4 linked regions of the Homo sapiens genome follow. The main gene of each other region encodes a partner of the protein of the gene in region 2 in a complex. Each region holds a gene or a part of one and is shown on either strand. Other genes may lie near its edges. The genes, in order: CNOT6L, CNOT10, CNOT11 and CNOT2.

What was found.
Region 1: CNOT10 (region 2) and CNOT6L share a complex: the UniProt entries of both Homo sapiens proteins name them as parts of the CCR4-NOT complex.
Region 3: CNOT10 (region 2) and CNOT11 share a complex: the UniProt entries of both Homo sapiens proteins name them as parts of the CCR4-NOT complex.
Region 4: CNOT10 (region 2) and CNOT2 share a complex: the UniProt entries of both Homo sapiens proteins name them as parts of the CCR4-NOT complex.

What each region holds. Positions count from the first base shown.
Region 1 is NC_000004.12:77,816,358-77,823,204, reverse strand, and holds the start of CNOT6L (CCR4-NOT transcription complex subunit 6-like), read left to right. Parts: upstream 1-3,836; 5' UTR 3,837-3,862; coding exon of another isoform or gene 3,863-3,896; coding exon 3,897-3,901; exon of another isoform or gene 3,902-3,967; coding exon of another isoform or gene 3,968-3,972; intron 3,973-4,181; exon of another isoform or gene 4,182-4,231; intron 4,232-4,870; coding exon of another isoform or gene 4,871-4,953; exon of another isoform or gene 4,954-6,847. UniProt on the Homo sapiens protein: Has 3'-5' poly(A) exoribonuclease activity for synthetic poly(A) RNA substrate.
Region 2 is NC_000003.12:32,765,177-32,772,209, forward strand, and holds part of CNOT10 (CCR4-NOT transcription complex subunit 10), read left to right. Parts: exon of another isoform or gene 1-1; intron 2-2,829; exon of another isoform or gene 2,830-2,970; intron 2,971-4,710; coding exon 4,711-4,786; intron 4,787-7,033. UniProt on the Homo sapiens protein: Component of the CCR4-NOT complex which is one of the major cellular mRNA deadenylases and is linked to various cellular processes including bulk mRNA degradation, miRNA-mediated repression, translational repression during translational initiation and general transcription regulation.
Region 3 is NC_000002.12:101,248,218-101,255,885, forward strand, and holds the start of CNOT11 (CCR4-NOT transcription complex subunit 11), read left to right. Parts: upstream 1-4,668; 5' UTR 4,669-4,747; coding exon 4,748-5,261; intron 5,262-7,668. UniProt on the Homo sapiens protein: Component of the CCR4-NOT complex which is one of the major cellular mRNA deadenylases and is linked to various cellular processes including bulk mRNA degradation, miRNA-mediated repression, translational repression during translational initiation and general transcription regulation.
Region 4 is NC_000012.12:70,337,429-70,344,461, reverse strand, and holds part of CNOT2 (CCR4-NOT transcription complex subunit 2), read right to left. Parts: coding exon 6,949-7,033; intron 6,707-6,948; coding exon of another isoform or gene 6,677-6,706; exon of another isoform or gene 6,043-6,676; intron 6,020-6,042; coding exon 5,899-6,019; intron 5,797-5,898; coding exon 5,640-5,796; intron 2,356-5,639; coding exon 2,294-2,355; intron 2,205-2,293; coding exon 2,155-2,204; intron 352-2,154; coding exon of another isoform or gene 335-351; coding exon 234-334; intron 1-233. UniProt on the Homo sapiens protein: Component of the CCR4-NOT complex which is one of the major cellular mRNA deadenylases and is linked to various cellular processes including bulk mRNA degradation, miRNA-mediated repression, translational repression during translational initiation and general transcription regulation.

The sequences.
Region 1 (6,847 bases), on a different chromosome or scaffold from region 2:
TGAGACACCACACCCACCTATTTTCCTATTGCATTATTTCTAATCTTAAAAACTGCAATAACTGACAAACGTGAAAAATCCTCAGAAATGAGATATCGAAAGCAGGTTACTCTCTGTAGCAAACTTTGATCCACTATAAAATTTCTTTTTTTTTTTTTTTTTTTTTTGAGACAGAGTCTCACTCTGTCACCCAGGCTGGAGTGCAGTGGCACAATCTTGGCACACTGCAAGCTCTGCCTCCCGGGTTCATGCAATTCTCCTGCCTCAGCCTCCCGTAAACTGCTTCTTAACAATGGCTAAAGTGCTACTCATTTGTTGTCGTTTCTGGGGTGTCTTTTGAAGCGGAATCTTATGAGGAACTATTTTTTTTTTTTGAGACAGAGTTTCCCTCTTGTTGCCCAGGCTGGAGTGCAATGGCTAGATCTCGGCTCACTGCAAACTCTGCCTCCCAGGTTCAAGTGATTCTCCTGCCTCAGGCTCCTGAGTAGCTAGGATTACAGGCGTGTGCCACCACACCCAACTGATTTTGTATTTTTAGCAGAGATGGGGTTTCACCATGTTGGTCAGGCTGGTCTCAAACTCCCGACCTCAGGTGATCCACCACCCGCCTGGGCCTCTCAAAGTGCTGGGATTACAGGCCTGAGCCACTGCGCCTGGCCTGTTTGTTTTTTAATCTCACTGAAGACAATTTCTTGGCATTTGTATAGTGCCAACTATCTGAAAACTATTATTTCTCCAATGTCATTCTAATTGCAAATGAGAAAAACAGCAATCTATTTTTTGGATAATATAGTTAACATATAAAAGTATTGCTTTCCTTTTGTTTTTAGTGAGTCAATCAATTTGATATGGTATAAAGAGGACATCTTTGAGAGTAAATTCTAAACTTAACCTGCATTAAAATAAATGATCCTATGACAACATCCACTGTCCACTATTAACTCTGAAAGTTACAATTACCCCTCCCCACCATGGATTGTGATGCATTTACTACTTAAAATTTAGAGGCCAACAAAGAACATCCCATATATAAAGTTGACCTTCAGGACCACCAAAGTCCACCATTTATTAGTGCTTCTTTAACATCCACAATGGCCCTGTCATTTTTCCCCACCTGTCACTACTGCTAGGCAGCCTGTGAGAGTGGGCAGATGTCAAATGGCTCACGTGTAAATGCCAGTGCTGTCAGCCCATCCTCCTAGACATTGTTGTGACTATTAATTTTGTGTCACCTCTCATACTTTCATTTCTGGTTTGTTCTGTGAGAATTTCCTGTTTATGTGTCAGCTTCCCCTACAATGATAGTGAGTTACTTAAGAAAAGGGACTATATATGCTTGGCTGTGTGTCTCCAATGCTAAACATAGCATCTGGAACATAATATGCCCTCCATATGTGTTTATTGTATATGAATGAAAATTCATTGAATACTCACAGAAAATTCATATAAATTTATTGTTATTTAAAGATGCTTAAATCTGTGAGGCTATCACATTATCTGATTTACATTTTTTCAGGTATTTATTTTCCTCTTTCCTTCTATAATTGGTGGTATTTCTCCCTGGGAGAGTGTTTGTGTGCTACGGAGAAATACTGTGGCAAGATGCCATTGAGGCAGGTCCACTATTTGGACTCCTGAAGTGACTTGCTTGGCTTTGCTGCTTACAAAGCCAAAGATAATTATTCATTTTATGTCAGCCTAGACTCTTAGATAGTTGGGAAAGAGTGAGACTTCTTCCAGGCTTAAGGCCATTTTGACATGTTTCACAGAAGATGGTGTGGGGCTGGTGTTGCTAGGGAGGGAAATGGAAAATTAACATAGGTAGAAAAGAAAATAGTCTGTCGTCTTGTGAACTGAGGGGCTTTTTTACTCACTCATTCACCCATCCTGGTGCCAAGATGAAAGTGGTGCAATAGTTCTGCAATTATGGACTCTTGTAACAGCTGTTCAGTTTTAGCTAAATGATGATTTGCATTTTCACCGCACCTTTTCCCCCAAGAGATGAAGGCATTTTACATTCAGTAATAAGGCCTAAGATGAATTGCAACCAACGCAACGTGCTTAGTGTGCTAAACACTCCTGTGGGGGAAAAAATACTGAACATTGCTAATATACCCTTGACCAACACTGGTAAATACACGAGCCCGGGCATGCATTGAGAAAGAGATTAAAATTGTGCAAAACTGCAACAGCAGTACTCTGCCTCCACAGCCGGTGTAATTTGCTTTTTGGACTGCTGGCCCAAAAAAGCTGAAGCTGGCCCACAAAAACAAAAACAAACCCCAGAAACTTAAAGTATCACAGCCAGGTTCACCAAGTAAACACTACTATTTCTAGTTTGCATTTGGATGTTTTCATTCTGTAGATGGCATGGATAAGCTACAAACAACAAACTAAAGTCTACAACGAGAAGGGAGAATTAGAAAATAGGACCGGGTTATCGCTGAGCGTCACAGGTTCTTTTATTTACCTTTGACGATACAACTTACAGATGCTATATGTTTTTAAAAAAAATCCACCGAATATGTCAGGAAACATTTCCTTCGGTCACTTCACCTCCCCTGGCGTCTCAGCCACCTAGACCTACGCTCTGCTTCGCTGTCAGGTCGCCTCGGGCGAGGAGGGTGCAGTAAACAGCGCCCACACAAGAACCCGGGGTGAGGCGGTTTCCCGTCTCTTCGCCAAGGCTCTGTGGATGTGGGTTTCTGAAACTCTACCACTCTTCTCAGCCCCGCTCCTCGCTCAGGCCAGGAAAAAAGAGTGAGAAAACAGCCAGAGCAAAACAGAAAACCATTAAGAAGCCCGGGCCTCCGCGCGCTCACCGCGACAAAACGCGGCGCACGGGGGGCGGGGCCAAGGCGCTGCGTAGGAGCTCCGCCCCGTCACCGCCCCGCCTCCTTCCCCTCACCCCAACCCTCCGCGCCGGGGAGTGACTGACTCCCGCCAGCCCCTCCACGTCAATCAACCCTCCTCGTTCTCGCACTCTCTGCACCTTGTTATTAATCTCAATACCGATATCGCCCGGACGCCTCTCCCCCGGCCCTCGGGGGTGTGAACGTGTGTGAGCGGGAGCGAAGGCACCGAAAGCTGGCGTCTCTGTTCAACCTCGGCCCCAGCAGCACCCGGCGCAGCGGCAACCCCCGCAGCGGCGGCAGCCCCAGCACCAGGAGGCCAAGGCCAAGGCCAGGCTCTGCGTGGCTCTCGGAGCAGTAGCCGCGGCTCCGGCCCTGCGGGGGCGCAGCTTCCTTCGGCTGGGGCCTTCGCGCCGGCGGCCGCGGCCGCGGGGCCTCTCTTGCGCGCCTGGGGTCACTGTCCTCGAAGCCCGGCGGCGCGGCCCTCGTCCCCCTTCCCGACCCCCGGTCTGTCTCCTCGCTCCCTTCAGCCGCCTTCCGCGCCGCCGCCTCTGCCGTTCGTCAGGCGGCCCGGCCCGGCCCGCCCGCCCCGCATCCCCTCCGGCCGGTGCCTCTCCCCTCCGGCGGGCTGCCTGCATGTCTTTGCTGCCCTCAGCCCCGCCGCCACCGCCGCCGCCGCCTCCCCCGCCGCCGCAGCACCAGCACCAGCCGCCCCGTCGCCGCCGCCGCCGCCGCCGCCCGGACCCCGGCGCGCTGAATGCAGGTGAGGAGGGGGCGCGGGCCCCCCGAGACCCCGGGCCCGGGTTCCCTGCGCGCCCGCCCGCGAGCCCCGGTTACGGGCCCTGTGTGCCGCCGCGGCTTCCCCTCGGGGCGGGCGGGAGCGAGGCCCGCCGTGGGTGTTTGTGTTTGCGTCTGCGTCTGCGGCCGCGGCTCTGGAGGGGAAGCATCTGTGGGGGCCTGGTGCGCGCGCGCGCGCGTGTTTGTGTGTGTGTTTCCCCTGCCGCGGGGAAATGGCTGCTGTTGCTTCTGGGCCAGAGGAAGAGAATGAGGTAGAGTGTTCTTTTGCCTCCGAGTAGGACCGAGAGTGTTGGGAAGAGGAGCGCGTCCCCGGGGAAATGAGGTGGGAGAGGGACAAATGTGCGTGTGGGTGTGCGAGTTGGGACTTTGGCGGGCGGGGAGGCGGCCCGAGGACCCACGGCGAGTGGGTGTGTGTCGGGTGACTGGAGGGGGCGGCGGGGCTGACCCGCGTCTCTTCAGAGGCGGGCGAAGGTTCCGGGGTGTGTGTGTGTGTGTGTGTGTGTGTCGGGGGTGGCCCGGGGCCGGGACCCCAGAGTGGCGTGTCCCTCCCGCTTTGTGGCTGCGGCTCCCGAGCCTCGCAGGTGAGAGCTGCTCCTAGGGGGCCGGCCGGGGAGGGCTGAGTGAGTGCGGCACACGCGCGGCAGCGGGGCTGGGAGAGCTGCTGGTCGGTGCCGCGCCGCTGATCCCGGGGCCGCCGTTCCCCGGCCGCGGCAGGAAGCGCGCCGGCCTGCAGCGCGGCCTAACTGCCTGGGCGCCCGCCCACCTCCCCGGACGCCTCCCGGGACGGCGAGCCCGCGCGAGCCCACGGCGCTGCCTCGGGCCTGGGCAGGTGAGGGTCGGAGGCGGGACTCGCCGATTGCCGTCGCCGTGGCCGCCTCCGCGTCTCCTGAGAGGCGAAGGCTTATTTTGGCGTTCCAACTGCAAGCCTTCGCCCGGCCGGCTGTGGGACCCGAGGGAGGAAAGTGAATCAGAACAGTCAGTCTTGGGAATACGCGGTGTCGTGTTCCCTTCTTTTCATCCTTCCCCTAAGGCTGTGTGGAGGGACTGAGTAAATATTTTGGATTTTTGTTGCAAATACTTTGCCGTTGGTAAGATTTTTTTTTTTTTAATTAGACAAACATTTTCTTGGAAGGGCTGAGGAAGAAAGGGAAACTGGCTTTCCTGGCCTGTGGGATTGGATGGATTTTGTGCATTTGAAATTGTTTTATCCTGCCTCCTAGGGGGAGAGGCGTGTACGCGCCGCCGAGCTGAGGAGCTGGGTGAGGAAGAGGAAGTTACTGGAGCTGTCATCCTGCTTAACTCGGTCGGCTATTGAGCTTAGACTGTTTAGGTGGATTGTGTTCAGGGAGTTTAGCTGAGCCGTTTGTACACATTGGAAGCACAGTGTTACATTTTACCGTATTGCCTCTAGTTATCTTGTCAATCAAGATAGGCTCAACAAACATGTTTTCCTCAGTCTCCAAAAACTAGATCAAGCAACCTCTGTTGTCTACTCAGTATGTGCTGCTGGAAAGCTATTTTGAGAATAGCCTAAGCAAAACCCAGTTGTAAAGATAAACCTGCTGCCAATAGGTCTACAGTACATTTCAGAACCAAATACAAATGGCATTTGGATAATTATTTGCTAATGTGCTTTTCTACTCCAACCTCATTACATTTGTATGTAGTTAGATCATTTAGCTAGAACCGTGCTGTGGATAAAAGCATAATACAGTTTCGATCCTTGTAGGCCGTACTCTGTGTCATGGCCAGAGATTGCTCTTTGCACCTGGTCTCACAAAGAAATAGTGTATGCTGTTCACGGGGAAGTGGAGGGAAGAGAAGGAGGGGCGAAGAGCTGTTCTCTATTACCACTACTGGAAAAACAATTTAACATACGTAGTTAGTGGGAAAAGGACTTGTTTTACAGACTTCAGTTAGCCTCCCAGCTGTGTGATTTTTCCTTAGCTGTTTGACCTTAGGTAACATATCTATAAGCCACAGTTTTATCAGTCACAGAGAGCTAATACCTTTATAGTAAGGTCGTTTTGAGAATAGAATGAGAAAACATATGTTTGGCATGTAGTAGATGCTTAGTTAAATTTTAGTTCTGCCTCCTGCAGCCCTGACTATGGGCATTGAAGAACCTTTGCAAACACAAATATGATTAATTATTTAGAGCAATATTAAGTAACTATAACGTAAAAAAGACAATGGAATCTTTCAGAGCCCTTCAGTATACAAAAGGTATATATATAAACTTTAATGTATATAAGAAGTTTTTTTCTAATAATAAAAATAGTCATTAAAATAGCCTAGTTATTTATAAAAATAGTCATACTTAATTTTTTTTTCATATTTTCAAATAGACCATCTCTCAGTTTCATTATTCTTTATGATTTTCGTTTTGTAGCCCTGGAAAAAAATTTTCAACCTCTATATAGCACATGTATGTTTCAATACAGTTAAACATTAAAAAGGATCAAGGAACCAAAATTTAGATAGATCCCCAAAGTTTAAATGCTACGAAAAATGCTAGCTCATGTTGACTGATTTGGTAAATAAAACTTCTTAGAATATTTCTCTGAATATAAGGTAAAATCCTCTGTCCACTTAATTTTCAATAACTTTCCATTTTTAGTATTTTCTCTGGAGTAGGAAATGTGTTCATTAAATTTTAACTGCTGTGTGGAAAAAATAATGTCATGGAGAGGTATGGAATTTAAGGTAAAGATAACAGAAAAGTTAACATAAAGATTGTTTTCTTTTTGTTTTGGGAAAAGACAGGACAGAGAATGTGGGAGTTTGATTGGTTTAAGTTTGTCATGGCCCTATTTACAAATGCCGGGTTTCCCAGTAGGGCTTACGTAATTTATTTGTATCAATAATGATAAGCTTTAAAAAATATTATTTTCTAAAATTCAAACTAAAATTTCAACACATTCAGTATAGCTTTTATGCATATTTTTATATAAAAATTTCTGTGAAGGTAAGAGTCACAGGATGGGGAGGGGGAAGCTCTCATCATTGAGGGGCTTGAATTTTTATAAATAACTAGGGGCAACTATTAGAATGCAAATTGTGATTTTCTTAAAGTGTGTGTTGTGGGAGTGTGTATTTACATTGAACAGAATCTTCTGCCATGTGGTTATATTTAAAGGAATAATTCTTACCTTAAAACTATAAATGATACTTTTTAATACCTTAGAAACAAAGAA
Region 2 (7,033 bases):
GGTTGGTGGCACGCACCTGTAGTCCCAGCTACTCGGGAGGCTGAAGCAGGAGAATCGCTTGAATCCGGGAGGCGGAGGTTGCAGTGAGCCAAGATTGTGCCACTGTACTCCAGCCTGGGCAACAGAGCGAGACTCCGTCTCAAAAAAAAAAAAAGATGTTTAAATTTCAAATCAGCAGAATAAAAAGCAACTTGGGGCCGGGCACAGTGGCTCACATCTGTAATCCCACACTCTGGGAGGCTGAGACAGGCAGATCACTTGAGTCCAGGGGTTTGAGACCAGCCTGGGCAACATAATGAGACCCTGTCTCTACTAAAAATACCAAAAATTAGCCAGGCATGGTGGTGCATTCCTGTAGTCCCAGATACTTAGGAGACAGAGGTAGGAGGATTACCTGAGCCTGGGAGGTTGAGGCTGTAGTCAGCCAAGATCATGCCACTGCACTCCAGCCTGGGCAACTGGAGTGAGACCCTGTCCCCCCAAAAAAAAAAGACAAAAGAAGTAAGTTGACAGTTTTAATTATTAAAATTCCAAAAGATGGAAAACTGTCTAAAAGATCACTTATATAAATAATAGTGCATCTGTACAGTTGAAGACAATGCAGCTATAAACTCTAGGTACTAAAATGGAAAGATGTCCAAGACATACTAAATGAAAACAGCAAGGTGTGAAACAGTTTCTGTATAACCCTGTATACATGCATAAAAGATCTCTGAAAGGACACACCAAGAAACTGCAAACATTAGTTGTTGGGGTGGCAGGACGAATACTACATGGCTGGAGCAGTAGAATGGGAGACTTTTCACTGTATACTGTTATGCTTTTAATTTTTTTTTTTTTTTTTTTGAGACGGAGTTTCGCTCTTGTTGCCCAGACTGGAGTGCAATGGCGCAATCTCGGCTCACTGCAACCTCCGCCTCCCGGGTTCAAACACTTCTCCTGCGTCAGCCTCCCAAGTAGCTGGGATTACAGGCATGTACCACCACGCCCGGCTAATTTTGTATTTTTAATAGAGACGGGGTTTCTCCATGTTGAGGCTGGTCTCGAACTCCTGGCCTCAGGTGATCCACCCGCCTCAGCCTCCCAAAGTGCTGGGATTACAGGTGTGAGCCACCGTGCCCAGGTGCTTTTAAATTTTGAATTGTGTAAATCTTTTTTCAAAATGTGAATTATAGGCCAGGCACGGTGGCTCATGCCTGTAATCCCAGCACTTTGGGAGGCCGAGGTGGGCGGATCATGAGGTCAGGAGATCAAGACCATCCTGGCTAACACGGTGAAACCCTGTCTCTACTAAAAATACAAAAAAATTAGCCAGGCGTGGTGGCATGTGCCTGTAGTCCCAGCTACTCGGGCGGCTGAGGCAGGAGAATGGCATGAACCCGGGAGGTGGAGCTTGCAGTGAGCCAAGATCGCGCCACTGCACTCCAGCCCGGGCAACAGAGCGGGACTCTGTCTCAAAAAAAAAAAAAAAAAGTGAATTATAAATCCACCTTTCAGAAAGCCAATACTAGAGAAACTCCATACACACTAAAGAAAGCTACTGGCAATATATAACTAAAATAAACCTCTGAATTCTACCACTGAAATGGTGCATCATGAAGCTTCAAGGAAGATTTTGATTGGATCTCTTTAGTAGGTCACCTGCCAATCCCTGGACCAATCATGGGCATTGAGCCATACCTGTAGTAGGGGACTGGGTACCACCATTGGCAGCCCCAGAGGAATCTCACAAAATTAGAAATAGTTCCTCAAAAGGACATTCATCCAGCAGATATCTGTTGAGCACTTACTTCTGAGCTAAGCCATGGGAATAAGACTGCACATAAGCAGACATACTACAATCTTGCCCTTGCTTGTAGACCTTTGCAGTTAGGAGACACCTTCCTAAAAAGGGAATTGCATGGTCAGAGGATATGCAGGATTTTAAGACTTCTGATATAGAAAGTTTGTATCAAATGGTACATTCTCCAGCAGCAGATGAGAAGGCCCACATCCCCACATGCTTGCCACAGCAACTAAAGTTGATATTAAACCTCTTCTCAGGAGATAGGGTGGCTTTCAGCCGGGCGCAGTGGCTCACACCTGTAATCCCAACACTTTGGGAGGCCGAGGCAGGCAGATCACCTGAGGTCAGGAGTTCGAGACCAGCCTTACCAACATGGAGAAATCCTATCTCTACTAAAAATGCAAAAAGTAGCTGGGCGTGGTAGCACATGCCTGTAACCCCAGATACTCGGGAGGCTGAGGCAGGATAATTGCTTGAACGCAGGAGGTGGAGGTTGTGGTGAGCCGAGATCGCGCCATTGCACTACAGCCTGGGCAACAAGAGCGAAACTCTGTCTCAAAAAAAAAAAAAAAAAAGCCTATGTGGCTTTCACATAGGTTCCTGCTTATGTGAGCAGCCTTGTTGTGCCTAGAAGTGATGATGCTTTACCATGTGAAAAATAACTACAAATTCTATTTAGTCAACTTAGTGGCATCTGGTCAGCATTTCTGATCCCAGATCAGAAAAGTTAAGTGACAGGCTGTCCAGGGTAACATGTTTGATATTATCTAGGCATTGAGTGTATGAGTTAAACCAGTAAGAGTTAAAATGTTTCACTCTTCTCAGTAACAAGGCTAGGGTGTTGAGCAGCCCCTCTCAAAGTGCCCCCAGACCTCAGTCACTGCAGCAAACAGAGCTTTTGATCTAAAGTTACAGTGTGTACAGTCCAGCTGAGGTTCTCGTACAGCAGGTGGCCATGGCTGCTGCCACGCTGGGAGAGACAGATGGGGTCAGGCCTGGTTTGGGGTCTGAAGGGGGTTTTGTTTTGGTCCCTTGGTTTTTAGGTTAATCCAATGGCTGGACCTTTGTTAATTGGGAGGCCCACCCTGCCTGGGAGGGAAGAACAGTGATGTGAAGAGTTGGAAAGGGCTCCGAGTAGATGTTTCCAAGGTTGCCTGCCCACCACTAACCATTCTGAACAGCCAGTAAGCAAAATGCCATTAAGTATCATAAAGATGTTGCCTTGAATTCTTGTATTTTAAAAAAAGCTTCAGACTGTGGTCATTGAAAAAAACAGTAAATAAAATGTGTTACTAGCCACTTGGATGGAAAACAGAGATTTTACTATCCACAAAATGGGCCGGGCACAGTGGCTCACATCTGTAATCCCAGCACTTTGGGAGGCCAAGGCGGGTGGATCATCTGAGGTGAGGAGTTCAAGACTAGCCTGGACAACATGATGAAACCCCGTCTATACTAAAAATACAAGAAATTAGCTGGGCGTGGTGGCAGGAGCCTGTAATCCCAGCTACTTGGGAGGCTGAGGCAGAAGAATCGCTTGAACCCAGGAGGCGGAGGTTGCAGTGAGCCTAGATCGTGCAATTGCACTCCAGCCTGGGCAACAAGAGCAAAACTCCGTCTCAAAAAAAAAAAATCCACAAAATGGTATAAAGACGATCTTGCCTATACAGCTTGCCTAGAAAGCTAGGCTTAGATATATAAAATCTCATTTTCTGAAAAGAGTTGTTATACCTCAGTGTTGTGGCGAGAGGAATAAAAGCCTCCCCACCTCATTCATGAGGAACTTCTTAGAAGCACATGCTCTGGGCAACATGCCCCGCTAGTCTGAGATTTCTCCTAATGCTGCCAGAAACCAACCTAGTACACGTTTCTGGTCTTCCCCAACATCTCCCACGTTCAAGCTGCTACCTTCAGTACCATTTCTCCCCATTTTCTACCTGTGAGATATCTACCCTGCAAGGACTAAAGCAGGCCTCCCTTACCCCAAAGCTCTGTTTGAAAGAAACTTCTTCCTTTCTCTCCATATTCACAGCACATTCACTGCCTTTCTCCCTGGCATTTACGTAACTGTGTTTGGATTATTGTTAGTTATTTGCATGCTTGTTTGTTATCAGGGGAAGTCCCTGTCTTATCTCCATACCCACCTCTGTTCAATAAGTATTTGTAGAAGTCTATTATCTGATTAGATTAAGAGAAGAGGCAGAGCTGTCTGGAAGCAATGAGCAACTAAAACTAGATGGGGAAGTACAAGTTGATAATAAGGTGAGGAATATTTTGGCTGTAGCTCAAAGAGGCCCAGACTGAGGAAATAAACCTGTAATTTCAGCACTTCTGTCCAGAGCAGTCCAGGCTTCCTTCTTCAGGACTGGATCAGAGAGAAACTGCTGGCCGATGCTATGGCTCTTACTCAGATCTAAGGGCAGCATGTTGCCTAAACTAGTAAATTATTTTATTGGACTAAATTGAAGTGTGTTTCAGTCCTTAAGAATGGAGACCTCAAACATGCTACGTGGTACGTTTTTTCTGTATTACTATAAGTTTGAATTATTATTCCTGACATTGACAACTTACAGTTTGTAATACTGAAGTGTTACTTAGGAAAACAAATGGGCATGCAGATTTTGATGTAATTGCAACTGTATGTGTCTGTTGTGAAAGCCACCAGCAGAATTGGATGGTTGACTGTAGTATCGGGGTGTCCAGTCACCCATCTCAAAACCCAGAGTATTACATGTCTAGCTTAATTGTTAGGTTTTAAGACAAAAGGAACTGAGGCTCATCAGAGCAGAACAACAGGTAGTCCCTAGGAAGTCACGTGGGAATGAGCTTGAATAAGTTTGTTACCTTGTTGGTTGGCAGATGTACTTGGAGTGTGTATCTTAAGCTTTTGTTTTTTCACGGGCATCTTTCTGTTTTGAGCAAAGGCGGCTTCAATGATCCATCCTAAAGAGGTGCCCCCTGAGGCCATCTTGCTGGCAGTCTACCTTGAACTGCAGAATGGTGAGTAATTCTCTCTGTTTAGGACTTTATCCCTTGAAAGAGCCTGAGATTTTTTGGTTGGGAGACAGGGTCTCACTGTGTTGCCCAGGCTGGAGTGCAGTGGTACCATCAGAGCTCACTGCAGCCTCCAAACTCCTAGGCTCAAGCAGCCTTCCCACCTCAGCCTTCCAGGTAGCTGGGACTACAGGTGCACGCCACTGAGCCCAACTAATTTTTTAAATTTTTTTTAGAGATGTGGTCTCGCTTTGTTGCCCAGGCTGCTCTCAAACTCATGGGCTCAAGCAGTCCTCCCATCTTACCCTCCCTAGTAGCTGGGATGACAAGCATAAGCCACCATGCTCAGCCAAGGCTGAGATTTTTTTTTTTTTTTTTTTTTTTTTTGAGACAGAGTCTTGCTCTGTAGCCCAGGCTGGAGTGCAGTGGCGCGATCTCGGCTCACTGCAAGTTCCGCCTCCCGGGTTCATGCCATTCTCCTGCCTCAGCCTCCTGAGTAGCTAGGACTACAGGCGCCCGCCACCACGCCCACCTAATTTTGTGTATTTTTAGTAGAGACAGGGTTTCACCGTGTTGGCCACGATGGTCTCGATCTCCTGACCTCATGATCTGCCCACCTCGGCCTCCCAAAGTGCTTGGATTACAGGCGTGAGCCACCGCACCCGGCAAGGCTGAGATTTTTAATGTCTGTTTTTTCTCTTCAGAGTCAGAAATTTGCCTTCCTTGAAGATAGGTGACCCATCAAATTCTTTTTTTTTTTTCTTTTTTGAGATGGAGTCTCGCTCTGTCACCCAGGCTGGAGTGCAGTGGCACTATCTCAGCTCACTGCAACCTCCGCCTCCCGGGTTCAAGGTTCAAGAGATTCTCCTGTCTCAGCCTCTCAAGTAGCTGGGATTACAGGCACCCACCAACATGCCTGGTTAATTTTTGTATTTTTAGTAGAGACCGGGTTCACCACGTTGGCCAAGCTGGTCTTGAACTTCTGACCTCAGGTGATCTGCCTGCCTCGGCCTCTTAAAGTGCTGGGATTATAGGCGTGAGCCAGAGCGACGACCCATCAAATTCTTCTACATAAAAATATAGTTAGGAGCTGGGCGCAGTGGCACATGCCTATAATCCCAGCACTTTGGGAGGCTGAGGTGGGCTGATCACCAGAGTTCAGGAGTTCAAGACCAGCCTGGGCAACATGGCAAAACCCCATCTCTACAAAAAATACAAAAATTAGCTGGGTGTGGTGGTGTGCGCCTGTAGTTCCAGCTACTGGGAAGGCTGAGATTGGAGGATCACTTGAGCCCTGGAGGTTGAGGCTGCAGTGAACTGAGATCATGCCAGAATAAGACCTTGTCTAAAAAAATAATAATAGGCCGGGCACAGTGGCTCACGCCTATAATCCCAGCACTTTGGGAGGCCGACACGGGTGGATCATTTGAGGTCAGGAGTTCGAAACCAGCCTAGCCAACATGGTAAAACCCCATCTTTACTGAAAATACAAAAATTAGCCAGGCGTGGTGGCGCATGCCTGTAATCCAGGTACTTAGGAGGCTGAAGCAGGAGAATCGCTTGAGCCTGGGAGGTGGGAGGTTGCAGTGAGCCGAGACACACCACTGCACTCCAATCTGGGCGACAGAGTGAAACCCTGTCTCAAATAATAATAATAATAAATACCTATATCTATCTAGATAGATAGATAGATAAATAGATAAATTGATAGATATAGTTAGGGAGTTTTTGGTATCCTACAAATACTCCTTACAAGTTAAGCTTATCTCCTTTTATCTGAGAAAATACAGAATCATAACTTCAGACACTTAATTATAATTAATCACTATTAATTAACCTTTCTCCTAGGCAGCTAAATGACTGAGAACATGAGTTAGAATGCAGTTGCTTTGAGTTATACACCATAGTATTTTGAACACATATTAACAAGTTTTACAGTAAGCCAGTTCTTGCTGAGAATTATTTATTCAAACATAAATTCAGGTCATGCCTCTAGGGCATATACGATCTCCAAGATGTATCTCACTAGAAGAAAGGCTGTTGGCTCTAAATATGAGATAGCATGAAGTAGAAAAGAGACATGAATGAGAGAGATTAGAAGGGACAGAAATAGGCCAGGTGCGGTGGCTCATGCATGTAATCCCAACACTTTGGGAGGCCGAGGCGGGCAGATCATGAGGTCAGGAGATCGAGACCATCCTGGCTAACATGGTGAAACCCTGTCTCTACTAAAAATACACAAAATTAGCTGGG
Region 3 (7,668 bases), on a different chromosome or scaffold from region 2:
TGACCCACCCGCCTCGGCCTCCCGAAGTGCTGGGATTACAGGCGTGAGCCACCACTCCCGGTCTGGATCTTTAGAAAAGGACGTGATGGGGAGGGTTAGTGAAGAAGTGGGGCAACGAGAATGTAGACTGCAGTGTGGAAAGGCAGGACCAGTAGATGCTTGGAGAGCAGTTGGGGGGAAAAAAAGAATGATCATTACAATTAATAGCAGTAGCTTTGCTTCAGTTATAACTTAAGGAAAAAGGCTAAGGGGCCTATATTTTTTGCTCCAGATCCAGTGATTTAATTTTGAGAAGCAAGATCCAGTGATTGAACTCATGCAAGGGGATGACCTGGGGCCTGTGAAAAGTCAGGTTGCAGTTTCCATTGTATTCAGGAAAACCAGAAAAATAAATACAACTTTTGGAAGAAACTTTAAGTTTTCTCCCATTCACATTTAACCCTAGGGGTCTCACACTTCTGGAATTGCTTAGTGTCACGTGTGTCCATATAAACCACCTAAACAGGCTTTGTGTGAGCAACAAGGCTGTTTATTCACTTGGGTGCAAGTGGGATGAGTCCAAAAAGAGAGTCAGCGAAGGGAGATAGGAAAGGGCAGCTTTATAGGGCTTGGGTAGGCAGTGGAAAGTTACAGTTAAAGGTGGTTATCTATCGTCAGCAGAGGAGGGGGTCACAAGGTGCATGGTGGGGAGATCATAAAACTCATTGTCCAGAAGAAGAATGTCACGAGGTCAATTGATTAGTTGGGGCAGGGCAGGAGCAAGTCATAATGGTAGAATGCCATAAGGTGGATTAATTAGTTAAGGCAGGAACTGGCTGTTTCACTTCTTTTGTGGTTTTTTGGCTGCTCCAGACTTCTTGGCTCCTGCAGGCCATCTGGACGTGCAGGTCACAGGGGTTACAACGGATGAGCTTTGGCTCAGAGGCCTGACATTCCTGTCTTTTTACTTATAAAATATAAAGTTATAAGAAAAGATAAAGAAAACATAAGTTTTTACTGGGGATTATTGGGGTAGGGGTTATGTTAATCAGGGCTGCTTCTGGCATGACTTAGGGGCGACGTGGACACCTAAAGAAAGTTTAATTTTATAGTGAGTTGGTCTAGAAAGTTTTTAGGTACAATTCTGTGTGGCTAACAAGGCACCAGTTAGCATATTTTGAGCTTGAAATTGTCCTAATAAATTCTCTAAAAACAGCAAATAAGCATAATAGCGTTAAGGTAGGTGTCAGTGAGTTTCTATGCCAAGGTAGGAATAATGTTTTAGGTACCAAAGCCTTTTGTCCCCATTTTCCATCATATGAACAGGATTCCCTGTTATTTAGGCAATGATCTATTATATTACCCTTTTCCTATAGGTGTGAGTGGTGGTCCAGATGGAGAAGTTCAATAGTTCTGATTGCAGATCCTATGCAGGAGAGATAATAATCTTTGTCTCCTGGGTTAAGCTAAGGCTGGCAAAGAGACAAATGTCCCAAGCCTTCTAACAACCAGTGGCATAGTTTATGTTGTCCTGGATGCTGGTCTGGTTGCCAAATATGGGGAAGGAAATGAGGGGCTATATAGGAGGCAAGCCAGAGGCTTATATCCTACGTGGTAATGGTCATGAAGGGAAAAGAAAAAAGAAGCAAAAAGCAGCCCAAGAAATCACTTATTTTCTAACAAAGAGCAGCCTGAAAGATCGAGCTGCAGACATAAATAAGGAAGCTGGAAGCTTGCACAGGGTGATGCCAGCAGCCACACAGACACAGCAACCTGGGGCCATGCGTGTCCACCATGGGGGCTCCACCTTCCCTTTTTTGTTAGCATGTACACAGTAGGAAAGAGATCAGTCACAAGAATAGCTACCTGCCTGCATAATAAAAGACTGGGGTGGGGGCTGCCAGAGATTCACACTCTATGCAGATGGCACACCTAGTCCTAACCGGTTTTCTTTTTGAGACAGAGTCTCTATCACCCAGGCTGGAGTGCAGCAGCACGATCTCGGCTCACTGCAACCTCTGCCTCCAGGGTTTAAATGATTCTCCTGTCTCAGCCTCCCAATTACCTGTGATTACAGGTGCCCACCACCACGCCTGGCTAATTTTTTTGTATTTTTAGTACAGACGGGTTTTCTCCATGTTGGTTAGGCTGGTCTTGAACTCCCGACCTCGATGATCCACCCGCCTCGGCTTCCCATGTTTTTTATTTTTTTTTTAAGATAAAATAAAATGTTCAAATATTTTTGAAACATCTTGGAAAAAACCCACACAGCATTAGTATTACTACATTAATAACTGGCAATTGGTATAATTACTACTATTAAATAGTATTAGAACTGCAGGAAAATTACAATAACAAATAGACCCATAGACCACCCAATGTAAAATGGCTTGCACAAAATACAGTTTATTATAATAACAAAAATTTTTTTTTGAGACAGTCTCACTCTGTCGCCCAGGCTGGAGTGCAGTGGTGAGATCTCGGCTCACTGCAACCTCCACCTCCCAGGTTCAAGCCATTCTTCTGCCTCATCCTCCCAAGTAGCTGGGATTACAGGCATGAGCCGCCATGCTCGGCCAATTTTTATATTTTTAGTAGATTCGGGGTTTCACCACGGCCAGGCTGGTCTCAAACTCCTGGCCTCAAGTGATCCACCTGCCTCGGTCTCCTAAAGTGCTGGGATTACAGGCATAAGCCACCTTGCCCAGGCCCTATAATAAAAAATTTATGAGAGTACTTTTGAGCTAATTTGAATCAGTTCCCCAAGTTACCACATTATATCTGCTGCTGTTAGGAACGTTAATTGGCAGGATCTTTCTGAAGTGCAATTTAGCAGTAAATTGAAGAAGCCTTTAAAATTCAGTAGATATCACACCTGTTGACCCAGCAATTTCTCTTCCTTAAATTTTTCATAAGAATTGAGGTAGCAAACCAAATATTACACTTCTAAGTGGGAGCTAAGTTATGAGGATGCAAAGACATAAGAATGATATAATGGACTTTGAGGACTCTGGGGTGGGAGGGGGTATACGTGGGACAGGGCTGAGGGATAAAAGACTATATTTTGGGTACTGTCACGCGCGTCCGTGTGGAGACCACCAAACAGGCTCTGTGTGAGCAATAAAGCTTTTTAATCACCTGGGTGCAGGCGGGCTGAGTCTGAAAAGAGTCAGGGAAGTGAGAGAGGGGTGGGGCCATCTTATAGGATTTGGGTGGGTAGTGGAAAATTACAGTCAAAGGGGGTTGTTCTCTGGCAGGCCGGGGCGGGGGTCATAAGGTGCTCAGCGGGGGAGCTTCTGAGCCAGGAGAAGGGATTTCACAAGGTAATGTCATCAGTTAAGGCAGGAACCAGCCATTTGCACTTCTTTTGTGATTCTTCAGTTACTTCAGGCCATGTGGATGTATATGTGCAGGCTTGGGCTCAGAGGCCTGACAGGTACAGCGTACACTGCTCTGGTGACGGGTGCACCAAAGTCTCAGAAATCACCACTAAAAACTTATCCATGTAACCAAAAACCACCTGTACCCCCAAAACTACTGAAATACAAGTTTTAAAAAGATGAAAAAAATTTTTTTTACATAAAATATCTTTCTCCCCAAAAACACATAAAATAAAATAAAAATATGTTTTAAAAAAGAATTGAGGTGGCTCTTAACTAGATAATTAGAATCGCTGGTGGTAATCACTGGCGAAATACGCGTACGTTTCTGTAGGTTTAGGGACCGGGCAAGTCTGGGAAATGCCACCTGGTGGTTCTCAGCCCAGACTACACCTCAGACTCACCTGAAGAGGTGGGGTTTATTAATATCTCAATCAGCATCTCTGGGGGTGGAACTAGGTATTTGTAACGTCTCCCCGTGGGTTTCTAATGCACAGCTAAGTGCCCAGGATAAGTGCCCTAGGGCAATCTAAGTAAAACGTGGCACAGCAAACAATTTTGTAAATGAATATTAACTGGAGACATGTTCTCGAAATCATGTTAAGAGAAAAAACCATGTACAAAAAAGCTCATAGTGCAGTATGATTCCATTTCTGCAATGAGTGTAAGACTAGAAATTAACCGTGGTTATGTGAAATGTGTGGTATATTTGCATTTACTAAATTAAAAAAAATGTTTCTGAGACAGAGCGCCCGGGCTGCAATGCAGTGGTGATCACAGCTCACTGCAGCCTGGGACTCCCGGGCTCAAGCGACCCTCCCGCCTAGGACTCTCAAAGTGCTGGGATTACAGGCACGCGCCACCACGCCCGGCCTGCATTTACAATACTTTTTACGACGAATACTTACGGATGTTATATTAAGAAAATAGTTAACATCTGAGGTGCATTCTTCCAAATAATAACGTAGACAGCACTTACTGGGACCGTCTGGCACCAGGAACCGTCCTGGGGACCGCCAAAGGGCGGCTTAACCTCGCAGCTGCGCAGACGCATGCAGTCCCCGGGCTCTCCTGCCGCGGGACCTCGGCAGACCTAACCCTGAACGCCACCAGCCCGACCTCGCCCCGCCCCTCCCCTCCCTTCCCGGGCCCCGCCCCCGCTTCCTGCCAATTCGCCCCGCCTACCCCGCGTCTCCGCATCCTCTTCCTGGCTTCGCTCCATCAGCCTCGCTTTCGCTGGGCGCTGTCCCTCTCCGCGGCGGTCTGGTTTCCCCGACGTGTTTTGTTTGCGACGCTGTCGTGTAACAGCGCGCTTTACGGCCGCGGGGACGGAGCGAGCCGGCGCCAGGGCCCCTCGGGCCGGGAAGAGGGGAAGGGGAGCGAGGTTGATGCCCGGCGGAGGGGCGAGCGCGGCGTCTGGCCGGCTTCTCACCGCCGCGGAGCAAAGAGGGTCCCGGGAAGCGGCAGGGTCGGCGTCCAGGAGCGGCTTCGGGGGCTCCGGCGGCGGCAGAGGCGGAGCAAGCGGCCCCGGGTCCGGGAGCGGAGGCCCGGGGGGCCCCGCGGGCAGGATGAGCTTGACCCCGAAGGAGCTCTCGAGCCTGCTGAGCATCATATCGGAGGAGGCGGGCGGCGGCAGCACCTTCGAGGGCCTGTCCACCGCCTTCCACCACTACTTCAGCAAGGCCGACCACTTCCGCCTGGGCTCGGTGCTCGTCATGCTGCTCCAGCAGCCCGACCTGCTGCCTAGCGCGGCGCAGCGCCTCACGGCGCTCTACCTGCTCTGGGAGATGTACCGCACCGAGCCGCTGGCCGCCAACCCCTTCGCCGCCAGCTTCGCGCACCTGCTCAACCCCGCGCCGCCCGCCCGCGGCGGCCAGGAACCCGACCGCCCTCCGCTCTCAGGTACCTCCTGAAGCCAGCTGTGCCGTGTGGATAGCGTTAGATTCCGCAGCTTTCCACCTGCGCTGCTGGGAACTCACCTGAAAGGGAAATTAACTATCCCTGTGAAATGATCATCCTCTTTTTCCGCCTCTCTCTGCGTTCCCACGCCCCTCACTCCTCCCCGCCTTAACTCTAAAGAATGGAGAGGTGGTAGCTTAATTGCAAGTTCGTGACACCGAAAATGATTTCTCTATACACCCCATCACATCATACAGCTCAGTGTAGGTCTTGACATGTTTAGTGTCTCAAATACGGTTCGTTCTTCGAAAACCCGTCTGTGGTGTGTGAAGTTAAAACCAATGATAAGACTGGATCTGTCCCCGGTTTTTAGTCTCAAAGGAGTACGTGGAAGTCAGTATTAAGAAGCTGAAGAAGTTGGTGGGCGGAAATACACATGAAACACCTTAAAGACTTTGCAGCCGCCTTTCTTAGCCTGTTAGGGATGGGGGCAGAGGATAGAAAGTCTCAAATTGATGATCTCGCGTTTGGAAACACATGACTTACTGGACATTATGTAAAGTGCATACGTGGTATACATTATGTAAAATGTATTTACTATTGTGTGGCATTGGTGAGATCAAACTAGTAGGTTAGATGCGAGGCTGCATTTTTTTTTGTTTTTAAGCTCAAGCAGGTGATGCTTTATGTGGATTTGCTTTGCGAGAAGACTTGCAGTCAGAAAACAAGAAAAATGGCATGTTGACAACGGGACCTGAAGGATTTAGGAACCAGTGTAGTGGAGGAAGCACACAGAGATAGGAAACAGCTTGATCTTACATTCCTTAACCAGTATAGGTAGGGCCTGCTATACAGTGAGTCAAGGCTAGGCAGTAGATTTTGAAGTAACACCAGGAGTTTGTTTTTATGGTACAGGAGGGCCGCGTTTCTAGTTAGTGTTCCTGCCGGGCATCCCATCAGGATCTTCTGATAGGTGTCCTGTAGTGCCCTTATCTAAGAAGGGCAACCCTTTGTATTGGCCTGAGATGCCTTTAGGGTACAGGTACTTAACCTGCTTCTAAGAAGCTTGTGACTGCCCAGAAAGTGAATGTAACACAGGTTTGTGGTCAAAACTCACCACCTAGGCCTGGCTAGGTGGCTCACGCCTATAATCCCAGCACTTTTGGAGGCCGAAGTGGTGGAGGTTGGGGGGTGGGAATTGCTTGAGGCCAGGAGTTTGAAACCATCCTGGGCAACATAGTAAGATCCTGTCTTTACAAAGCAATAAAAAATTTGCTGGGCATGGGGTGGCTAACACCTGTAGCCCCAGCTGCTCAGGAGTTTGAGGCAGGAGGATCACTTGAGCCTAGGAGTTTGAGGCTGCAGTGAGTTAGGGTGACAGCTTCTAAACACACACACACACACAGACAACCACCACCCTAGGGTGCTTGTATTAGAGGATTGGGACACTGGGATTTAGATCAGAGGGCCCTTTGAATTCTGAAGAACAAGTGAGGCAAAGAAACCGTGACTTATATAATGTCATTCTCATGTACAGTGAATCTAAACCCACACCTAGTCCGTAGACCGCATTATACACACAGATTTGCCATAGGTGGGATGGCAGTCACCAGAGAAGGAATCCATGGATGGATTATATTTAACCATTTTGTGCCTCAGATTCCTCATCTGTAAAATGCAAATAGTAACAATTCCCAGCTGGTAGAGTTGTTACAAAGAATAAAAGTACCTGTGAGTGGGCTGGGCGCGGTGGCTCACGCCTGTAATCCCAGCACTTTGGGAGGCCGAGGCGGGCGGATCACAAGGTCAGGAGATCGAGACCATCTTGGCTAACACGGTGAAACCCCGTCTCTACTAAAAATACAAAAAATTAGCCGGGCGCGGTGGCGGGCGCCTGTAGTCCCAGCTACTTGGGAGGCTGAGGCAGGAGAATGGCGTGAACCTGGGAGGCGGAGCTTGCAGTGAGCCAAGATTGTGCCACTGCAATCCGGCCTGGGCTAAAGAGCGGGACTCCGTCTCAAAAAAAAAAAAAGTACCTGTGAGTGTTACCCACTATTATACCATTATTAAAGTAGGTAGGGATGGTGTGTAGATAACATAGAAGAGAAAATATCAGTGCCTACACTCCACTCCCAGAGCTGCTGATATTGTATGTTTAGGGTAAGACATTTAGTGGGTATGTCTTCAGAATGCTTTTCAGATGACTCTGAACAGAGGCAGGGCTGCGATTGTGTAATGCTGGGTAGTTAAGAGGAAGGAACGACCACCTGTGGAGCTGGAGAAATTCTCAGGAGTGATATTTTTTGCTGGATATTGATTAGGGATGCAGGAGGGAGGGCAGGAGTAGCTCTGCCAGGTATTATTAAAAAACTGGGTGTAAGGCCGGGTGTGGTAGCTCATGCCTGCAATC
Region 4 (7,033 bases), on a different chromosome or scaffold from region 2:
GCCACTGCACCCAGCTTCAGCATTAAGTTTGAAATTCTTTTTAGGTATATAGATTATGAAGCCATGGTTAAGATACGGTTTTAATCTAAATTAAATTCACTTTAATAATGTAAAAATAAATTTCTTGATGGAGAAATAGTTCCATTTAAAGATAGCCATCATCACTTAAAGATGTTTTCAGCATAGTCAAGATCCACTATAATACAAAAGTGATTAAAATACTTTGAACATACAGCTCCACTGCAGCTAAAAGTTGTAATACGTCTCCTCCATTCATGTAATAGAGATAGAAGAGAAGGTCTTCACCATATCGGCCAAGTTTTATTGCAGCCAGCTGAAAAAGAAAAATAACTTATTCTGAAATATAAAACAAATCTGCAAATCCTAATATATAGTTGCTACTACTAAAGAAAAAATGGAGAGATAAACAGAAACTCCCCACTTTGTAGTAGATAACTGTTATTACATGATTACACAGATAGGTAGTTAAGATTCTAAAAGGGAATTTCCTCATTTAAATGACTGAAGTCATTTAAACAATTATTTCTGATACATCTAATTGATATGCTGACTGGAAGAAAAGCTCAATAAAGACTTCCAAGCAAGATCCACTAAAAGGATTTAATACCCAATGGGGAAAAGAACCTAACAATAGCATTGTGCTCAGAGATCTAGGACTTGTATTCAAGTCCTGGTTTTATTACTCATTAATATGACTGTGTCCTAGTTATTTAAAATCTCTTAGCTTTACTTGTCAAATGTGGACAATGACACCTATGAGGGTTACTAAGAAAGTAAATAAAATGAGTGAAGGTATATGAAAGCACCTTGTAGAGTGCCAAATATATAGACGGCTTATAAAAAATGTTAAACTGAATCTATATCTGACAGTGAATGATTCACAAGTCAGTTGTATGCTTTCAGCAAATCACAGATGATGAATACAAAAATCATAAAGAAATGGCTTTTCAGTTTGTTTAAATAGATGTCTGAAAGATGATTGCTTTACATTTCTCTCCCCAAGGTAGAAACATAACTGCTTACCAAACTGTAAAACATAGGTTCAATAGTCTCAAATTTTCACATTTAAATAAACCTTAAAAGTGTCCCAAAACAACATTTTTATCTCGTTATTTGATCCTATATCGAAATACTTATTTGGTTATTACACATTCTCTGAATGTAATTTTTCTCTCCATTCATGTTATCCCTATTCAGGCAGCAGCCCCAATGTGACAAATTCTCCTAAATTAGTATTTCTCAAATTGGTAATAAGAAAAGGTTCTGGAACACTTTGGTAATTGGAGCGAAAGAGCTCTACAGTGGTGGTGGGAGCAAATCACACAATCCGCAAATAGAAAATAGGAGACCTCTCCATCTTGTATTTCTTGCCTTTTATCTACTCAAGTATTAGAAGACATTGAGAAAGGTATCCCTTTACTTGCCTGTCCACATCAACATCCACTTGACCACAGAACTGTAAGGCACACTCAGAATGCTGTTGTATATATACACATACACATAGATATTTATACACAAATATATAACAAAAATATATTTTTTCACTAAATTGTAGTTTCCCAAGGCTAAAATTTAGGTACCATTGTGAATATTTTTTGGTAATAGAAACAAACTCTCAGTTCTTCTAAAGCAAAAAGTGCCACCATTTTCTTTCTTAGATTGAAAAAAGAGAGATTAAGCTGTAATCTGTTGTTAATAACTACTTTAGAATTAGAATTTTAGGTGATTTAAAAAAATGGAAATGAAAAAATACAGAGAAAAGTCAAAGGTCATAAATAGTTTTTAAAGATACAGACCATCTCATTAAAAACACTGTATCTGTAATACTTGTAACGAAAATCTTTTTACTGGTAAGGTCATAAAATAAGATTATCAGAAGGATATTTATCAAATGTTCCAATCTAGTTTATTCTCATCAACTGCGGTTATGGTTGTAACCTGTTGTTAAATGTAAGAATTTTTATTTTTTACCAGTCCTAACATTTACCATTTAACAAGTTAACATGGACATATGAAAGCATATCCCTGAGACCATTACTAATTATTTCAAAAATAGTATGCTGCCTGAACTGAAAAACATGTGAAAAATAGATAAATTCATGCTGACTGAGTAGAATAATAAACTACACTCACCTTATCCCTAATGTGAATGTTCGTTAAGTACTCAGATGGAACATGGAAGTCTGGATAATAAAATGAAAAAAGCCTTATTAACTGATTCTCAATTGTAAATTTCTTTTTAAAAGGTCTAAACACAAATAGATTCTCCTACCTATGTCTTGAGGTCGACAAGGTGAAGATGCCCAGGGTGACGCAAATTTGGGGTAGAGATTTCTGAATAAGGAGGAAAAGAAAACATTTTGAAATCCAGAAAAAGAGATTTCTAATTTTATTTCAGGAAAAACAAAGACTCCAACTGTAAAATGACCATCTTTACTTCTAATTCCCTTACTTGGGTTTACTGACTTATACAGAAGCAAATGAAGACTGTGTGTGTTTGTGTGTGTGTCTGTAAAATATGATAGGACTCCTTCCCTCAGTATTCTTGCAATACAGTATAAATAACACAACATATCACAATATACAAAACATGATTAAAAATTTTCTACTTTTACTTGATTTCAACTCAAGATGCTTTAAATTCTTCAATACCATGCTCCCAATATAAATTAAATTTTAAATAAATTTTAAATAAATTTCCCATTTATTTGTGTGGCAAGAAGAAAACTGAGTAACTATTTGCAAAAGTTTAAATTCATCAAATATTTACTGAGTGCCTATTATATGCCTGGCACTGTTCTAGGAGCTTACGACACATCAGTGAGCAAAACAAGATCACTGACAACATGAAACTTACTTTCTGGTTGAGGATGGTGGATTGGAGGGGGACAGACAAAATCAATTAACAGAATAAATAAATAAACAATGGCCCATGTTAGAGGGGAACTGGGAGGGGAGACTGGATGCATAATTATTAAATAGGGTGGTCAGTTAGGTTTCATTAAGGTGGTCAGATCTGAAGATTTGAAGGCTATAAGGGACATAGTCATATTAATTATCTGGCAGAAGACTCTTCTAGTCTGAGGGAACTCCTAGAGCAACTAAGGCAGGGACATGACTGACATGCCTGAGATATAACAAGGTGGCCAGTGAAGCTGGAATACAGTGAACAAAGGGAAAAGCTGTTGAGGTGGGGTTAGGGGACAAACAATAATCATGTAAGACCTTGCAGGCCTGTGAAGATTTGGGGTTTCTGGTCAAGCGCGGTGGCTCACACCTATAATTCCAATACTCTGGAAGGCCAAGGTGGGCAGACCACTTGAAAAGTGAGGAGTTAAGAGACCAGCCTGGCCAACATGGTGAAATCCCGTCTCTACTAAAAATACAAAAATTAGCTGGGCATGGTGGCACATGCCTGCAATCCCAGCTACTCAGGAGAATCGCTTGGACCTGGGAGGTGGAGGTTGTAATGACCCGAGATTGCATCACTGCACTCCAGCCTGGGCGACAAGAGCAATACTCTGTCTCAAAAAAAAAAAAAAAAAAAAAAAGATTTGGGGTTTTTAATCATAATGAAACCACAAACATTTACTGGGTGTTGAGCAGAGGAGTAATGTATTAAAAAAGGATTGTCTTGGCTGTTATATGAAGAGATTGTACGGGAAGGGGTATAAGGACAATCAGGGACCCCCAGTGACTGGCTAATGGAGTATTCAGGCAAGAGAGAATGATTCAAACAAGGGTGGTAGCAGTTAAAAGTAGTGAGCTTTGGTTAGATTCTGTATATATTTTGGGAAAAGCCTGATTATGGGGTATAAAAGAAAGAGGAGTTAAGAATAATGCCAAGTTTCTGGAAGTACAGAGTTACCACTAACTGAGATTGGAAAGGCTGTAGACAGAATAAGTTGGGGGGTGATCATTCAAGAAATATTTAATTGGCAATTGAATGTAGAAATCTCAAACTCAGAAGTGTGGAATGGAAACATATGTTTGGGATTCCTCAATATATATGGTATTTAAAACAATAAGACTAGAAAAAGATCATCAAGGATGTAAATGCAGAGAAGAGGAATGACACTGAGGTCAAGAAGAAAAGGAGGAGGTACCAGCAAAGGAAACTGAAAAAGACCAACCAGTGAAGATGAGGTAAAAATGGTGCTCTCAAATTCAAGTACAAGAATGTGTATCAAGGAGCAAGAGTTCCTCCAAGTGACCACTGAATTTAATAACATGAAGGTCATTTGGTGACCTTGATAAAAGCAGCTTTAGTGAAGTGGCAGGGACAAAATCCTGACTGAAATGGGCTTACCAGAGAATGGGAGAAGACCAAGTCGGAGAAATGGAGATGACTCTTTGAAAAGTTTCGCTTCAAAGGGAAATAAAGAAATGGGAAAGTAACTTACGGAGGAGGTTGGATCAAAGGAAGATTTTCTTCTAAGATGAGAGAAGTAACAATGTATTTCTATGTTGATGAAAATGACCCAACAAAGTGTGAAAATGTGTTGTAAGTAGAACGCATGGGTCAATTATGGTAATAGGGTGGAAAACAAGAATAACATAGGTGTAGGTGGCTGTAGGTAGTCAGATTTGTTGGCTAGACTGTGCTAAATGTGCTCTTCTAATTGCTTCCATCTTTCTTAGTACAGTAAAAGTGAAAAGCAAGATCATCATTTGATAGTAAGAATAAGGAGAAAAGGTATTAGGGGCATGCAGAAGTGTACGATAGTTGCATAAGAGAGCAAAAGAGTAAATGGACTAAGCATGCAAGGTATAATTATCACTGGTAGAATTAAGAGCCTACTTTTGAGGCTCCTGGGCATGAAAATAAAGGAAGACCAGGCAGTGATATCATGTGTTTTTCTCTAGCAGAGCTCAGTAGCACAGGTCAGGAATGAAATAGGCAGAAACAATCAGTACTGTAGCTTTGGCCATGCAAGTATAACAACATGAGAAAATGGCAAGTAGTCATGGGATATGTAAATGAACAATTATGACTGACCACAGAATTTCATGGGTAAGAAGGGAGTTGATCACAGGGGAAAAGAGACGGGGATCTGGAAGAACAGTTAAAATACCGAAGAATCAATAGATTGAAGGTCCCAATGGAGTGAAATGATTACAGGAATCACAGTACTAGAAGAAGAGAAATAGAAAATAGAAAGTGGAAGTCGGAAAGCATGCGAGCTCAGATTTTAAAATTGAGAGACTGCAGTTACGAACAATGACTAGGTCAAAGGGATAACTAAAGGAGTGGCTGAAGTATACTACAGGACAAAAATTCCTGGAGGAAAGAAATTCAAGGAGCTGAGATTTCAGGATTCTGGAAGGTGTGTGTGTGTGTGTGTGTGTATATATATATATATACACACACACATATATACATGCACATGCACACACACACACACACACACACACACACACACACATAAAATGCCAAATTATAAAAGGAATACTGCAGAGTGACAGTGATCTAAGAGCTAACATGAATGGGAATGACCCAGAGAATCAGCAGGTTAACAATGAGTAGCAGTAGGTGAGATAATTTGATGACATGATATTAAAAACTGGAAGTCTGAAGAGGTATTATATACAGACATGGAAAAACAGAAAAAACTTACTCAGGAGAGTTCAGATTGAGGCCTAATGTTGTTAAGTCACTTCCTAATGCAAGATGTACCATTCCTGGGTCTGTCTCTGCTGCCCTGATAAATGTTAACAGGCCAATCATTCCAAATTGGTCCGTCACCATCCCTTGAGGAATGTTAGTAACCCGACCTGGGTAGGAAAAACACAGTTGCTTTTATTTTCAAGAAAAAGTTAAAAAATAGAAAAAAAAGCATTCTATAATATCTTTGACATAGATTTCTAGAGTCCCACCATCAGGTAACACCTGGATCCCTTTTTTCTGCTGGTTATTATTTTGTGTTGTTGAACTTTTATCTCCAGGGAATTTGGGTCCATCTGTACTTGAAGTTGTCTTGCCAGATGTATTCAAATTCTAGCATGAAAAAAATTAAATGTGACATTAAAATTTGTTAAGTATACAAATTCAAGTTCACATATTAATACCTTGCTATTTATTCTTTATTACATTTAAATTGGTAGTTAAATTATTACCTGTTTTTCAAGTTCTATAGAAAATTGTTTCCATCATTGTTCCATGGTATACAAATAAATCCTATATCATCCACATTTGAGTATTTAAAGAAAAAGAAATCAAGGGAAAATATCTTATTTATCTCAGATCTTCAGTCACAGAAAAAAAAAAATCTATCTCTTTCTCAGGTCTTTATGCTTTGGGATACACTTGAAGTTACACTCCTCAATGCTTTCATGTAAAAGAGAAACTAAATATAGTATATTACCTAAAATCACCAAAGCTACCTTGAAGATAAGTTAGACATACAAGCTTTAAAACTTTGTACTTATTTTAATTCTTACCGATCTTCTTTATCAATTATTTTAATAATATATAAACTCCCATCACACACAGAGAAAAGCTATTTTCAGTGAAATGTGGAAGAAATAAACATATTTGTTAAGTCAGAAAGAAGAAGCTGAGTTGGTTGAATCAACACAGGTATAAAAATGTGTATAAATTCTTCAAGGAGAAAACTTACTCAAGAAAAACACAGCTCCTTAGAAGGCTATATTATCAAACTTCATGGGATCCAGCTGACAGGGACTACAATAAAAGTCTAAATTAACTCTGAGAAGTTCAACAGAAATTTGCAAACCTATATGAAATAGGAAAAAAATAGGCTATCTTCTAAGTTATAAAGCTTTTCCACATTCTTCAGAAGTTAGGTTATTACAGATATCAAGATAAAACAGTTTTGTAATAGTATTTAGTAAGTAATTGTTAATATAAGAGAAATCTGAAGGGAAAAACTACATCACTCACATACACACTTCTCAGTTACTTACAGATTTACTGTCATCATTACTTGATGTTGGATCTTTATAGCTGGAGCCTGGTAATGCTGGAAAATCTTCATTGTGTATTGAGAAG